Regions from separate parts of the Homo sapiens genome. Here region 2 is linked to region 1. A link means that fine-mapping ties the variant in region 1 to the expression of a gene that starts in the linked region. Tissue or cell type: whole blood. Region 1 holds a variant in brackets; the other region holds the start of a gene. All regions are shown on one strand. Distances are between the middles of the regions.

The links. PIP is the estimated chance that this variant, and not a neighbour inherited with it, causes the effect.
Region 2: it holds the start of ZNF117, and the variant in region 1 is fine-mapped to the expression of ZNF117 in whole blood (INTERVAL, PIP 0.91).

What each region holds. Positions count from the first base shown.
Region 1 is chr7:64,740,082-64,742,769 of GRCh38, forward strand. No RefSeq gene overlaps it. Among named protein-coding and RNA genes, the nearest start is that of ZNF138, 53 kb to the right of the region's middle. The variant TTTTA/T (reference allele first, on the strand shown) is at 1,262.
Region 2 is chr7:64,989,516-64,992,203 of GRCh38, forward strand. It overlaps ZNF117 (zinc finger protein 117), which reads right to left and starts at 1,521. Exons shown (of 4, transcript NM_015852.5): 1 at 432-1,521. The region is part of intron 1 of ERV3-1-ZNF117 (ERV3-1-ZNF117 readthrough); the gene reads right to left. It overlaps ERV3-1 (endogenous retrovirus group 3 member 1, envelope), which reads right to left. Exons shown (of 2, transcript NM_001007253.4): 2 at 841-2,688. The coding sequence ends at 1,697.

The sequences.
Region 1 (2,688 bases):
GGTGACAGAGCAAGACTCTGTCTCAAAAAAAAAAAAAATTAATGGGTAACAGATACCGTTAGCTGCCAAAAATAATATGACTAGATTTAGTAAGTATCTAGCCATGCAAATAACAGTCCATTAAATTAAGACTCTAATAGGTGCATGTGGACAGCATTTATGTGCAATGTGATGCACCTCTACTCAGCACCTTCTTCTGCCTGCTCGCAGAGATACCAATTTTCCCTGAGTGATTCAGGGTGAATACTGAGAATTGAGAATGCTATGTTCAGAGGGATTACTAGGAACGTCATTAACACAATTGTTTCCATATTATAAAGAAATTTTATGAATCTTACTCTGCCTCAAAAACGCTTTTAGTAAAGGATTGTTTCTTTACAGTGTTCAATTTGAATTCATGGGAAATTTCAATATTCCAGGTAAGTCAGAAACACTTAAGTGTCAACAAAATTCCATAATACGTACTTGAATAAGATAAAGTCTTCTTAGCTAAGAATTTTATTTTATCCATAAATTTAGAGAAGAATAGAAAACCAGTACTTTGGGCCAAATAGCAGTGTTTGCCATGGAATTACCACCCAAACAAGTGCTCTCCAATATCATCATTAAAATAGCAATAGCACCATGTGCTTTCCTAGAAACAGCTGGCCTGTTTTGCAGGGATATAAAGTGGAGAAGGCATTGAAATAATGAAGGGGGGTGATATACATTGAATAATCATATGAAATATACTTTTTAATAAAAAGAAGCATTTGATGTTGTATAACTATAGATGAGACTATTAGTATGAGGTTATAATATTGTTACTTCTTTTTTTTTTTTTTTGAGACTGAGTCTCACTCTGTCACCCAGGCTGGAGTGCAGTGGCACAATATCTCACTGCAACCTCAGCCACGCGGGTTCAAGTGATTCTCCTGACTCAGACTCCTGAGTAGCTGGGATGACAGATGCCTGCCACTGTGCCCAGTAAATTTTTGTAGTTTTTAGTAGAGACAGGGTTTCACCATGTTGGCCAAGCTGGTCTTAGAACTTCTGACCTCATGATCCACACGCCTCGGCTTCCCAAAGTGCTGGGATTACAGGTGTGAGCCACCGCGCCTGGCCAATATTTTTACTTCTATTGATAGGATAACTTCATTCACCATATTCTTATTTAAAATATTCCTTTTTCTGTGGTATATTTGCTAGCTTTTGGTCAAATATTACCTGAGCTCAATAGAAATCAACAAAATGAATCTATATTTTACCACAAGCATTTTAT[TTTTA/T]TTTATTTATTTATTTCTGAGACAAAGTCTCGTTGTGTTGCCCAGGCTGGAGTGCAGTGGTGCAATTTCGGTTCACTGCAGCCTCTGCCTACTGGGTTGCAGCCATTCTCCTGCCTCAGCCTCCCGACTAGCTGGGACTACAGGTGGTGCCACCACACCCAGCTAATTTTTGTATTTTTAGTAGAGACGAGGTTTCACCATGTTGGCCAGGCTGGTCTCGAACTCCTGACCTCAGGTGATCCATCTGTCTTGGCCTCCCAAAGTGCTGGGATTACAGGCAGGAGCCACCGTGCCTGGCAGGAAGCATTTTGTTATTGATGCATATGCTTACTTCGCTAAAAATACATTAGCTTTTTACGAAAAATCTATACTTTACTTTTCTTTGAGACAGAACCTCACTGTGTTGCCAAGGCTGGAGTGCAGTGGCACGATCTCGGCTCCCTGCAACCTCCACCTCCTGGGTTCAAGCAATTCTCCTGCCTCAGCCTCCCAAGTAGCTGGGACTACAGGTGCTTGCCACCATACCCAACTGATTTTTTTTTTTTTGTATTTTCAGTAGAGATGAGGTTTCACTATGTTGGCCAGGCTGGTCTTGAATTCCTGACCTCATGATCCGCCCACCTTGGCCTCCCAAAGTGCTGGGATTACAGGCATGAGCCACTGCACCCAGCCTATACTTTTCTTTCAGTGTGTTATTTATTGCTGAGAAGTGTCCTGCCAGGAAATTGCTATAATCAATCAGCTCTACTTACATTGACTGATAGTGAGTTGAAGTGATGTGTGAATAGGAAACAGATGTGTCTTCTTGGCATCTCTTTTTAAATTTATTCACAGAAGAGGAGGATGCAGATAGAAGATGAAGAAAGATATGATCTTCCTCTTTCTTTGTCAACATGTGTGAAGTCAGAGAATAGGTAACATGGCACCCACCAGGTAGAGAATTCATCTGCATATTAAAAGATTAGGGTGCTATGGCAAGCTTCTTCACACACTATGTAATTGGCACACCTGGTCCAACAAATCCTCTGTGCCCTATGTAAATCAGACACCACCTCCTCAAGCACATCTATAAAACCAAATGCATCTTGCCATGAATGAAGAGATCTGTTCAGAACCCTCTGCTTCTGCATGAGGGGGCTTTTCTCTCTTGTTTATTAAAATTTCCCTCTTAAACTCACTCCTTGCATGTCCGTGTCCTTGATTTCCTTGGCATGAGGCAAGGAACCTGGGGTATTACCCCAGACAAATGATGCCACTTTATAACCACAAATATAATTGAAATATATTTGTATCTTCAGCTTGTGTAGGCATTGGCAAGCCTTCTTCCAGAATGTAGTAGCAACTTATACTACCTGATTTATATGAGGGATTATTTATTATCTAATTATCCTTATTTTCTAAACCCTACAGTATGCTGGCTCCC
Region 2 (2,688 bases), 250 kb after region 1:
TAGAAAATAACCTAGAAAATTCTAAGACATAAAAACTGGCAAAGATTTTATGATGAAGATACCAAAAGCAATTGCAACAGAAGCAAAAATTGACAAATGGGACCTAATTAAACTAAAGAGCTATTTTGCAGCAATGGAAACAATCAACTGAATAAACAGACAACCTACAGACTAGAAGAAAATATTTGCAAACTATGCTTCTGACAAAGGTCTAAAATCTAGCATCCATAAGAAACTTAAACAAATTTATTTTAAAAAAAAAGAAGAAGAAGAATAAGCCAGGATCTGTGGCTCATGCTTGTAATCCCAGCACTTTGGGAAGCTGAGGCAGATGGATCATGAGGTCAAGAGATCCAGACCATCCTGGCCAACATGGTGAAACCCCATCTCTAATAAAAATACAAAAATTAGCTGGGTTTTGTGTCACGCACCTGTGATCCCAGCTACTCAGGAGACTGAAGCAGAAGAATCATCTGAACCTGGGAGGTGGAGGTTGCAGTGAGTCGAGATCATGCCACTGCACTCCATCCTGGTGACACAGCAAGACTCCATCTCAGAAAACAACAACAACAACAAAAAGAAAACCAAAAACCTAATTAAAAAGTAAGCAAAAACATGAACAGATACTTTTCAAAAGAAGACATACATGTGGCTGACAAGCATATGAAAACAAAATTCACGTTGTTAATTATTAGAAAAATGCAGAGAAAAACCACAGTGAGATACCATCTCATCCAGTCAGAATGCCTATTGTTAAAAAGTCAATGACAGATGCGGGCTAGGTTGCAGAGAAAAAGGAATGCTTATATGTTGTGGGAATCAGGAGGCCGGAGAGATCACTGGGTGCAACAGGAAGGTTTTATTTAGGTGGCCACTGGCCCAGCGGATTAACATCCAAAGGCTGAGCCCTGAACAAAGACAGGGCTTGACTTTTATACATGCATCAGGCAGGGGCAAGTCGGGTTTTTGGCGCAAAACCTGCGAGGTGAGAAAGCAGTCTTACAGAAGCAGAACAAAGGCAGTTAATCATACCGTGACAGGTTTTACAACAGGATTTGCAACATGAGCCTACCTTACTTAAACATGTCTTGTGACCTTGCCATGCTACAGAAAGAAAAACAAGAACTTACAAAATCTTTACAGACTTGCAGAAATAGTTACAAAAATAGTTGTGAGAGCAGAACAAAGAATAATGTTATGGGGAGAGAATTTCAAACAGGGAAACTGATAAGGAGAACTTGTTTTTCTCATCCCTGCTCCTGGAGCCCACTCCTTCGGAGCCCCTGCCTGGCCTTGCAGATAATTATCATAGCTCCAGCAGGACTTTGGAGTGAGTCAGACTGGTCAGGAAAGGACTTGTTTTCCCTTTACTTGTTTTTCCTTTTATATTTCCTGCTTCATTCCCCCCTTTGATGCTTTTTATAAGTAAAGTTTAAGAGAAAGCATCACTATCTTCATTTACTTCAAGAGGAAGTAGCTCTTTTCTTGGCAGGGGTTAATACTTAGTTAGGGCCATTAGTCGTGTGGTAGTCCGTCTGTCCACAAGAGCCTCTATGGCTGTTTGGATATTTTTGACAATGAGGGGTAAGAGACAAGGGAGTATAAGGCAAACTCCCAATATGGCTAGGACTATTTGTACTAAGGTTTTAAATCCTCCAAGGGATGAGAACCAACCTCTGAAAAGGGAATCTGGAGACTATCCTTTCCAAGTCTGAACTGGGATGTGAGCTAACTTTTGGATTTTAGCAGTTATTTCTTTGATGACCTTTCCTTCGTCATCAAGTTCCAGGCAGCAGTTAGTAAGGTTGAACTTTCCGCATACTCCCTCTTCCTGGGCTAGGAGGTAGTCTAAGGCCAGTCTATTTTGATAAATGACATTTCTCATTTTTGTGGCTTGCTGGGCAAGCAGATTCAAGGCCCCTGCAGTTTCATTGGTAATGATTTCTAGTACTGCCTGCAATCTTATAATGCGGTTAAGCATGTAAACTGGGGTGCGGTATCCCCACATTCCATCTTCTGCCCAGGTGGCTGGGCCATAATATTGAATTATTCTTTCAGGAGGCCATTCATTGTCCTTCCAATCTCCTATAGTTATGCCTCTTTTGCTTTTCCTTTTAGTTTCATCATAGATGGGGTATCCTAAGGCTTCTCCCTGTTTTAGGGGCATTAGGAAGAAGGACGGCCTAATTGTCCCCAGTACACAGGCCCCTGACCATTTAGCTGGCAGTTGTCGATATGCTTGTGGCCCACAGATCCAGTAGAGGCCAGAGGGTGCCTGCCAGGTATTTGGAGCTTCAAGTTGGTACCAAGAATGGTTTAAAGATGGGAAACGAGAGAATGGGCTTGGGTGTGGTGATTCAGAATTATTGCTTTTGCCCCTCCATAAAGTCTTTCCTAGTGTCTCGTTGTAATATTGTTGTCCTAGGCAAGTTAACTCTCCTACTGGGTCTGTAAAGGCCTTTCCCCAGCGAGCAATACAGAATTTTCCAATAATGGAGGTTTTTAAGAACCAGATGCTCTGACTTGATGGTGCAGGTTCGAGGGAAGAGGCGGTTAGTGTGAAATTATCTTGGGGCATTAGTTCCCTTGCTTCCCATGGCCATTGGTCTCCCATGTTCATTCCCCCACAGACATAACATGAAGCAACGTGCAGGCTGCTGGCTATGTTTTCAGCCAGTTGGGCGAATA